Homo sapiens: one gene and its partners. The protein of the gene in region 1 interacts with the protein of each later gene in a biochemical or structural test. Each region holds a gene or a part of one and is shown in the gene's direction. Other genes may lie near its edges.

Evidence for each region.
Region 2: the proteins of HES4 (region 1) and COPG2 form a complex in vitro, tested with the Homo sapiens proteins (one large-scale study listed by BioGRID).
Region 3: the proteins of HES4 (region 1) and LTN1 form a complex in vitro, tested with the Homo sapiens proteins (one large-scale study listed by BioGRID).

The regions. Positions count from the first base shown.
Region 1 is NC_000001.11:998,344-1,001,448, reverse strand, and holds HES4 (transcription factor HES-4), read left to right. Parts: upstream 1-1,351; 5' UTR 1,352-1,475; coding exon 1,476-1,583; coding exon of another isoform or gene 1,584-1,661; coding exon 1,662-1,757; intron 1,758-1,835; coding exon 1,836-1,923; intron 1,924-2,016; coding exon 2,017-2,390; 3' UTR 2,391-2,485; downstream 2,486-3,105. UniProt on the Homo sapiens protein: Transcriptional repressor. Binds DNA on N-box motifs: 5'-CACNAG-3'.
Region 2 is NC_000007.14:130,658,739-130,662,390, reverse strand, and holds part of COPG2 (coatomer subunit gamma-2), read left to right. Parts: intron 1-3,652. UniProt on the Homo sapiens protein: The coatomer is a cytosolic protein complex that binds to dilysine motifs and reversibly associates with Golgi non-clathrin-coated vesicles, which further mediate biosynthetic protein transport from the ER, via the Golgi up to the trans Golgi network.
Region 3 is NC_000021.9:28,944,299-28,947,950, reverse strand, and holds part of LTN1 (E3 ubiquitin-protein ligase listerin), read left to right. Parts: intron 1-344; coding exon 345-487; intron 488-1,663; coding exon 1,664-1,799; intron 1,800-1,999; coding exon 2,000-2,144; intron 2,145-3,354; coding exon 3,355-3,568; intron 3,569-3,652.

The DNA.
Region 1 (3,105 bases):
TCGCTGGCCCAGCTCCCCCTCCCCACCTCCCTCGTCCCTGCGCCCCCTTCGCACCCTGGGAATGCCACGCCCTCCCTTGAGGCTTCCCCCCTGAGGACCCCCCACCCCGCAGAAGCCTTTGGGACCACCCGGCGTCAAGAAGGCTTTTGTCCACCCAGGCCACCCACCTAATTCGGTTCTCTTACGTGACTGCTGAGTCTGCCATCTGCCTCCTGCCCGGATTGAAAGCCCGGGAGGGTCTCCACACCCGGGCCCAGGCCAGGCTCTCCAGGGGGCTCAGGAAGCCTCCGCTGCACGGACGCGTGAGGCCGCCGGGGACCCCGAGTGCGGAAAGGACCAACGTGCCCCGCAGCGGCATTCGAAATAAAAACAGCAAACACGAAAATAACCACAGCCCTGTTTTACGCAACCTGCCCCTTTGCAGTTATATTAACAGTGGCCCCTCATTTTTCTGTGAGCCCCACTTTGCTGCTGCTGAGTTCGCCAGCGGGTCACCTGGAAGCACGTGGCGACACGGGCCACATGACGTCATCCCAGCAGGCTTGCGTCATCGCCCCGGGTGCCTGGTGACGTCACCAGCCCGCTCGCGTCACGCGCACGTTCTGCTCCTCGTGGTCCGGCCCGGCCCGCGCCATCACCGGCCCTGCTCTGCGGGGCCACCCGTGCGCCCCTTCGCCGTCCGCTGACTCCGCCCTCCCGCCTGCCGACCCGGCCGCCGACCTTCCCCCGGCTCTGTCGCTCCCAAGGCTTTCTGCAGCCCTCCGTGCTCCAGGCCGCACACCTGAGGGTGGGACCCCCGGAGGCCGAGCCGGTGTCGGATCAAACTCGGAGACCGAGCAGGGCCCAAACCGGGACCGGAGTGGGGACGGGCGGAGGAAGCCAAGAGGCTCGAGACCGAGGCTCGCCCACCCCTCGGCGCCGCCGGACCCTGCGCCACTGGGGGAATTTCCTTCCCGACTTCCCGCGCGGCCACAGCCCCAGCTCCGTCCAGCCCCGGCTCCCGGCCCCCTGGGCGGGAGAGTGAGCCCCGAGACTCCGCCCAGCCCCGGGGGTCCCGGGCCCCGTTCGCCCCCAGCGGCCCCTCCCGGCGCGTTGCTCGGCCCCGGCTGCATCGGGGAGCGCGGGATCACCCGGCCCTGTCCCCAGCGGTGTCGGAGGGGGGCGCGGGCGGGGGCCCCGCATGCCATTGTCGCCCGCGGAGGCCGCGCCCGGAGCCGAGGCGTGACTGACAGCGAGCGGGGGAGGAGCGCGGCCGTCGATTGGCTGGGGCGAGTGTGGGAAAGAATGCGGAGCCGGGTTCACACACCCCGCGGCGGCGAGGCCTTAAATAGGGAAACGGCCTGAGGCGCGCGCGGGCCTGGAGCCGGGATCCGCCCTAGGGGCTCGGATCGCCGCGCGCTCGCCGCTCGCCCGCCAGCCCGCCCGTGGTCCGTGGCGGCGCGCTCCACCCGGCACGGGGAGGCGCGGGGCGCACCATGGCCGCAGACACGCCGGGGAAACCGAGCGCCTCGCCGATGGCAGGAGCGCCGGCCAGCGCCAGCCGGACCCCAGACAAGCCCCGGAGCGCGGCCGAGCACCGCAAGGTGGGGTCCCGGCCGGGCGTGAGGGGGGCGACCGGGGGGCGGGAGGGACGCGGGACTCAGCCGGTGCCCGACCCGCAGTCCTCCAAGCCGGTCATGGAGAAGCGGCGCCGAGCGCGTATTAACGAGAGCCTCGCTCAGCTCAAAACCCTCATCCTGGACGCCCTCAGAAAAGAGGTAAGTCGGGGGCGAAGGCCCGAGACCCGGAGTCTGGGTCGCAGCTGACCTGGACCTCCCGCCTATCCCCGCCCCCAGAGCTCCCGCCACTCGAAGCTGGAGAAGGCGGACATCCTGGAGATGACCGTGAGACACCTGCGGAGCCTGCGTCGCGTGCAGGTGACGGGTGAGGCGCGGGCGGCGGCGGCTTGGAGGCGGGGGGAGGGCGCGGGACCCCCGGGACCCGGCACCGACCTCTCCTCCTGTGTCGCTCCCGCAGCCGCGCTCAGCGCCGACCCCGCCGTTCTGGGCAAGTACCGCGCCGGCTTCCACGAGTGTCTGGCGGAGGTGAACCGCTTCCTGGCCGGCTGCGAGGGCGTCCCGGCCGACGTGCGCTCCCGCCTGCTGGGCCACCTGGCAGCCTGCCTGCGCCAGCTGGGACCCTCCCGCCGCCCGGCCTCGCTGTCCCCGGCTGCCCCCGCAGAGGCCCCAGCGCCCGAGGTCTACGCGGGCCGCCCGCTGCTGCCATCGCTCGGCGGCCCCTTCCCTCTGCTCGCGCCGCCGCTGCTGCCGGGTCTGACCCGGGCGCTGCCCGCCGCCCCCAGGGCGGGGCCGCAGGGCCCGGGTGGGCCCTGGAGGCCGTGGCTGCGCTGAGGCTGTGGCCCTGAGACTGCATCGGAGGCGGCGCCCCGTTCTAGGGCCGTGGCCTTTGCCGAGACTGTAGCAGAGAAAACGTATTTATTATTCCAGAGTCTGCGTCACGAGTTTTCTTTCTTTGTCTTGGTGAAGAGTTGACTTTGGGAGCGCCCCGCAGCCACGCCGCGCCGGGGTCCCGCCCTCCTCCCAGGGCCGCGGTCTGCAGGTGGCTGGGGGCGTCGGGCGGGCCCGGGGGGGCGGGCTGGGGGCGGGACCGAGGACTGAGGGCGACCCCTCCGCTCCGCGCCCTCCGCTCCGCGCCCTCCCCTCCGCATCCCTGCAGCCCCGCATGCGCACCCGCCCTCTGCCCCCGCGTTGGGTTTGCCTCGCTCTGCGGTGGCGGTTGTGAGGGGTCCCCCCGGAGGCTCAGGTGGGAAGCTCAACGTCCCTGAGTGCCCAGAATCTTCCCGGTGCTGGAAGGCGGTCGCGCAGCATCGCCGGGCAAGTTACTTTTCGGAGGCCCCTTTCCCGACTCCCAGTCCCCGGACCGCGGAAGGCGGAGGCTGCGGTCCTGAGCGGCGCTGGGATGAGGGCGGCCGCCCTTGGCCCTGAAGACCCCCGCTGGGTTCTCCTGTTAAGTGCAGAGCTGCCCGTGCCCACCGCAGACCCCTCCTCCAGGCGTCTGTGCGGGGGGCGCCCGGCGGGAGCGCGCGGGTCCGAGCTGGGCTGTGGA
Region 2 (3,652 bases), on another chromosome or scaffold:
TATGTATTTTCCAGCTTTCCATTAACATAAATTGGCCAAATCCTGCAGTTTTTTGGTATGTATTGCATATCATCACATGTCACATTTTGTGTCAACCCCCAGAACCTCTTGAGATTTGAGTCTTGTTATGGATCTAAATAATGAGAGGTTTTAGGAGTAGATCTTCAGGAAGATCAGCAGTCCCCTGTAAGGCAGCTGTTTCAGGGGAGGCCATTATATACTCTACAGGCAAAGGAAGACTAATTTCCTCACATATGGGATAAAGGACTGATGCTTCTACTAGCAGAAGATGTCACAGAATTTAGGAGTTCGGGGTACTTGGCTTCATCAGAGTCTGTCCATATATCTTCATTCTACTTTTCAGGGCCCCATTCCTTGCCAGTCAAGGTCCTAACTTTAACATAAGATGTCCTGCAAGAGTGTGAATTCAATTTGCATTGTAACTGAGCCACCTGCAGGATATACTTTGTAGAAGTCTCAGCCCTGTAGCCACATGATATAAGGCTTTCTATGAAGGCAGTTATAGATTTCTGGCCCCCTTACCCAGATTTGAGTAGTGCTTTTAAAACTCCGAGCTCATCATTTTCTTTTCCTGAGAAAAGAATTATCCAGTGTACCTAGAAACAACTAATTAACCCATTATACAACTTATTTTTACTAAAATCTTCTATGGCATCCACTAGTTAGTTACCCAAGGCTTTGTCTTCTGTAGGTCCTTGTCTGCAGATGATGATTTTAAATATTTTGCCACTGCATGCTGTGGACTACTAGTAGCCCCTTTACCATTGGAAACTGGTCATTAATACCTTCAATCAAATCAGAGAAGCAACTTCAGGTTCATATCTTTAAGGACTTCTTTTAACCACTTCCTGTAGCAGAAATTCAGGGTTCAGACAGGGAAACAGAACCACTATGAGTATTGTGGAATTAGGTGTTTATTAGAGGAATTAGACTAGAAAACTAGGCAGGTTGAGCTGCTGGAGTAGGGTTCAGAGGGAGGCTGTTACATAAGTCATGGAAGGCTATTGCCTCTTTTGTGGCTTTGTTTTTGCAGCCAGGTGTCTTCCCAAGGCTGCTGTTACTCAGAGGGCTGGCAGTTGGGAAGAAAAGCTGGACATGTAGTGGAGAAAAGGAAGCAGAGTAAGAAAGAAAAAGGATGAGGACAAACTTTTGAAGCCTGTAGCACAGAGGTTTATATTAAGAAAAGAAGATATGAAATTGTCTTCTAGGAAATGGATTAGGGAAATGTAGGATTGTTCGATAGGACTAATAGCCTGTTGAAGTTAGTGCTTATGAATTTAAAGTATTACCAATGTTTTTCTCCAGCTACATGGTGAATGTTTTTCTCCAGCTACAGCCTGCAGGTTAAAGCACTGAAGGCTTAGAGATAGGATTTAATCAGGATTGAAGTTTTGCCAGGTTAGTGAACAGAGGGAGAAGCAAAAAAGTTGAGTGGTTGGAACATCGACTGTGGAATCTTCGGTTAGGAGGGAAGCAAGAACGGGCTGACAGGGACAGCAAAAAGTTGGTAGAACCAGTGGATTGTAGGTCAAGAGAGAGTGAAAGAAGTTTGGAGTCAGGAGTGTGAGTGCTTGGGAATGAAATTAGAAAGGGATGCTGTTACTGATAGGCTGTGGCAGTGGGTGATCATTGTAGGGAGGATGGCATCATTGGAGAAGAGGAGGTCGAGGAATGAAGAGGTCAGAGGTTTAGAGATACCATCTGTATGGATATTAAAATCACCAATACTTATTACTGGGATTGCACTGGAGAGACAGTGAACAAGGTACTGGTATTTTTTAAAAATAAGGGAAGTGACCTGGGGTTTAATGGACAACCAGCAATGGTAGCAGGTGACATAGTATAAAGGCATAAGCTTCCCCACCTGTAGGCCTGGTGGTATGAGGGTTATGGGAGAGAAAACAGCTGCTATTTCAGAGGGTTGCAGGAGGATCCCTGGGAGAGAACCAGGTTTCAGTTAAAGAAAAAGATGGGAACATTCAGAGAAGAGTTTGAGAATATAGGGGATTTTGCTGATGAAAGTGTCAGAGAATATAATGGCGCTGATTAGAAGGGTGGAAAATGGAGTCAGACGAGGTGCTGTACCCAGATGCAAGGAATAAGTCTGCAGGTTATGAATAATGACCAGAGTATTTTAGGCTTTTTGTAGTGACTGAGGTAAGTAGCCATGTACAGCATGATGTGATTAGTTTTAATGATTCCTTAGGCAAAAATACGGAATTGAGGGAGTGATTGTTTTGGGACAAAGAGAGGTAGAGATTTTGCCAGAAATACGTGGAGCTCCTTCCGTTACCAGCATTCCTTTACCAGAAGGTAATTACTGTCTTGAAGTTGGTATTCTTCTATCGTTGTTTATATTAATATATGAGGATTACATAGTTTACATCTGTAATCAATACTTTGCATTTTTGTGTGTCTTAAAATATAAAAATAACATCTTCTTCTTTTGCAATGTTGTTGTTGTTGTTTTTGAGTTGTCGCCCAGGCTGAAGTGCAGTGGCGCGATCTTGGCTCACTGCAGCCTCCGCCTCCCGGGTTTGAGCGATTCTCCTGCCTCAGCCTCTGGAGTAGCTGGGACTGTGGGCACGTGCCACCATGCCTGTCTAATTTTTGTATTTTTAGTAGAGACAGGGTTTCATCATGTTGGCCAGGATGGTCTCAATTTCCTGACCTCTTTATCTGCCCGCCTTGGCCTCCCAAAGTACTGGGATTATAGGCCTGAGCCACCACACCCAGCCTGCAGTGTTTATAATTAATACATTTTTAAGATTTACTGGCTTGTTACATGTACTTCTACTTTATTTACTTTCACTACTATATGGAATTCCAATATGTGAATATACAGTAATTCTATTTATCCATTCTCCCATTGGTAGATATAAGTTGTTCCCACATTTTACCTATTACAAATGATACTGCACATAATGTTTATGTACACAGTGAGACTTTTTCTGGAGTAGATACCTACAAGTGGAATTTCTAGATAATGCTTGTTTGTTCGTTTTTTTTTTTTTTGAGACGGAGTCTTGCTCTGTCGCCCAGGCTGGAGTGCAATGGCATGATCTCGGCTCACTGCAACCTTTGCCTCCCAGGTTCACGCCATTCTCCTGCCTCAGCCTCCTGAGTAGCTGGGACTACAGGCACCCGCCACCACACCTGGATAATTTTTTGTATTTTTAGTAGAGACGGGGTTTCACTGTGTTAGCCAGGATGGTCTCGATCTGCTGACCTTGTGATCCGCCCGTCTCAGCCTCCCAAAGTGCTGGGATTGCAGGCGTAAGCTACCGCGCCCGGCCTAAGCATATTTTCATGTACTTATTTGCCATCTGTATATCTGCTTTGATGAAGTGTCTGTTAAAATTTGTTACCACTTAAAAAAATCAGGTTGTCGGCTGGGCCCGGTGGCTCACGCCTGTAATCTCAGCACTTTAGGAGGCTGAGGTGGGCAGATCATGAGGTCAGGAGTTTTAGACCAGCCTGGTCAACATAGTGAAACCCTGTCTCTACTAAAAATACAAAAAATTAGCTGGGTGTGCTGGCAGGCACCTGTAATCCCAGCTACTTGGGAGGCTGAGGTGGGAGAATCACTTGAACCCAGGAGGGGGAGATTGCAGTGAGCTGAGATCGTGCC
Region 3 (3,652 bases), on another chromosome or scaffold:
AAAGTGTTGGGATTACAGGCATTAGCCACCGCACCCCGCAATTGACTCTTTTTTTTTTTTAAAAGAGGACATAATGTCATGTGGCTAGTATAATTTTAAAAAATCATATATGGGGAAAAGTTATATATGCTCATTTAAAAAATTTATGCAGAAAAGAGAAAAGGAGCAAAAAAAACCAATTTCATCAAGTCAGCACTTGTTAAATCTATCATAGTTTCTTTTTATGTAATTATATGTGATAGAATTATTCATCTATCTTTTTCAGTAGTCTAAATAAAAGAAATATATAAAATAACTGTATGTTTGGAAGAAATCTAACTTGTGTTTTTTTTTTCTTTAAACAGTTTTTTTCCACTAACTGAAGGCAATTTGCATACCATTCAAAGTCTATGTCCATTTTTGTCAAAAGAAGAAAAGAAAGAATTTAGTGCTCAATGTATACCTGCTCTTTTGGGCTGGACTAAGAAAGATCTTTGCAGCACTAATGGTTAGTTGCTTGATAATAAATATTTCATTAATTTAATTATTGCTTGAGATGAAGAACTGTTTCTAATATATAAGACCACATCTAGCAGAGGTAAATTGAATTACAGCTGATTTGTTCTGAGATTATATGGATGAGTGTTGTTAGACAGTGGCTGTTACCATTTTACAGTACAAAAATGCTGGGCCTTAAGGGAAGACTTACGCCCAGAAATACCTTCTAACCATTTCTTTTCTATCTATAGCTTTTTAAAGCTGTGCCTCATTTCTCCCTAGCCAATCAATGATTGAACATATAAAGGCAAAAATAGCGTCTGTTGTATTTAAAACACTGCACTTTTCATTTGTTTATTAATTTAATAAACATTTATGAGCACCTGCTACATGGTAGTTCCTATTGTAGAGAAGACAAACATAAAGTTGTATTATGTGATAACCGATGTAGCAAAAAGATGTGCTATGTATAGAAGTGGCAGAAAGGAAGGAGTTTCCACTCTGCTTTGAGGGTGTTAGTGGCAATTTCACAAAGAGAAATATTTCTACTGGGTGTTGAAGGATAAATAGTTTTCCATATGGACATAGTTGGGGAAGGGCATTCCAGGTACACAAAAACATACAAGGGTACAGATTGTTCATTTTGGCTGGTATGTAAGATAGAAGGTTGGGGACAGAGGGTGTTAAGATACACCAGTGGATGGATTTTGAGGAATGGTAGAGATTCTAAAGAGTGAGTCCACATCAGAGTTTACCACATGTACTAGCTGCTATTGAGTGAATGAATGTATAAATTATGAAACAGTATGTTCTATTTTCCATTTGCTGTTTCCAGCTACTCTGTAGCTGTAGGGTTTTTTTTATTTGAATGATGAGTTTGCTGAATATGTCCTGCACTTAAGAAACCAAAACAAAAACAGCATAAGTCAGTTTAAATTACAGCATCATTCACTCTTTCTCCTCCCCCAAATTCTCTATTGTGTGCTAGGTGCTGGGTTTGGAGACAGGGTCTCTGCCCTTTGGAGCTTATAAGCTCATTTGTTGACTCTTAGATAAAAGTCATTATTAGAGTTCTTAACCTGAACACTTCTCAAGAAAGTCTTTTACTTCTCAAAGTGGACTTTTTTTTAATAGTAGCGATATAGTTCTTAAATATTTTTAATTTTCATTTTGAATTTTACTTTAGGAGGTTTTGGACATCTTGCCATTTTCAATTCTTGTCTGCAAACCAAAAGTATAGATGATGGAGAGCTATTACATGGAATATTAAAAATCATAATATCCTGGAAGAAAGAGCATGAAGATATTTTTCTTTTCAGTTGGTAGGTGATACTTTATACTATGTTTTTCCTTCAGTATACAATTCAGACAAAGATTACGTATCTGTGTCACAATTTTGTAGAGAAATTATGGTAGACATTTAAGTCAGTTATAAATAAGTATGTAAGATTTAAAGTAGCATACTTTCTAATTGAATGTCAATATAATCTTTTATTGTCTTTTGTTTTTATCTTTATCACAGTAATCTATCAGAAGCAAGTCCAGAGGTACTGGGTGTAAATATAGAAATAATCCGGTTTCTTTCCCTATTTCTGAAATACTGCTCATCCCCTTTGGCAGAGAGTGAGTGGGACTTCATCATGTGCTCCATGTTGGCTTGGTTGGAGGTAAATTAACCCGATATGTCATCACCTCTTGTGGGTTTTTGTACATACTTTTGCATCAGAACTATTTACTAATCTCATTCTTTAAGTGATGATTGTAATTGGTTCCTTTGTATAATTTAAAACACTTTATAGATGTTCTTCTTACCAGCTACTATTTGACAGAATAGTAAAATGATAGATTTTTAATGACTACCAGCATCATTCAGTGACCAAATCTCCTGTTATTAAAATGCCTTCTCCATTAGCTTATTGTAATATTTGCAGCACAGCCCTTTCAGGTTTTATCTGTTAATGACAATTATTTTGGTCTTTTTTGGTTATAATTAGATTATTTCTAAAACATACTGTGTGAATATTGTGAGAGTAATGCATTAAATAGTAGCAGATTCAGAGGGAATTAGTGTAATTTTTGACCCAAAGCAACCAGAGGTATATTACTTGTGGGCTCCAAGGCAGCAAGTCAGTCAGGGTTGGATTGGTCTGAATCTCTGCTTTGCCTGCTATTAGCTATGTGACTTAGAGTTTTAAACTTAAACTATTTGAGACTCAGTTTTCTTTCTTTCTTTCTTTCTTTTTTTTTAAATTTGAGATAGAATCTCGCTCTGTTGCTTAGGCTGGAGTGCAATGGTGCGATCTTGGCTCACTGCAACCTCCGCCTTCTGGGTTCAAGCAATTCTTGTGCCTCAGCCTCTCAAATAGCAGGATTACAGATGCCCACCAGCATGCACGACTAATTTTTATATTTTTGGTAGAGATGCGGTTTCACCATTTTGGCCAGGCTGGTCTCAAACTCCTGCCCTCATGTGATCCACTTGCCTCAGCCTCCCAAAGTGTTGGGATTACAGGCATGAGCCACTGTGCCTGGCCGATTTTCTTATTTTAAAATAATAACTTACAACTTGTAGGGCTACTGAGAAGATTATAAATGTGTATTTAATGTGTCTGACTTAGTGTTTCCTTCCATGGGTTAGAAATTAAAAAGGGTACTTGAGAATAAATTGTTTATTAATGATTCTATTCATGGTATTTAATTTTGAAGAAAAAAGTTATTTTGATGTAAAATTTTATGTTTCTCCTGAGATTACACACCTCAACTGCTTTTCGTTTTAAAATTCAAAGAAATGAAAGTGGGGCTTTTCTTTATATTGGCTTTATTTGTAGTGTTCTGGTAGAAGTCTGTTTACCTATTTCATTTTTATTGTTTTTTCAGACAACAAGTGAGAATCAGGCATTGTATTCTATTCCACTTGTGCAACTGTTTGCCTGTGTCAGCTGTGATTTGGCCTGTGACCTCAGTGCTTTCTTTGATTCCACAACTCTGGATACCATTGGCAATCTTCCTGTAAATCTAATCAGTGAATGGAAAGAATTTTTTTCCCAAGGCATCCACAGTTTGCTTTTACCTATTTTGGTGACTGTTACAGGCAAGTGAAAAAGGGAATAATAGTGAGATTGATTCATTGGAAATGACTTACTGAAAAATTCAAAAGCAAAAATTTTGATGTTTA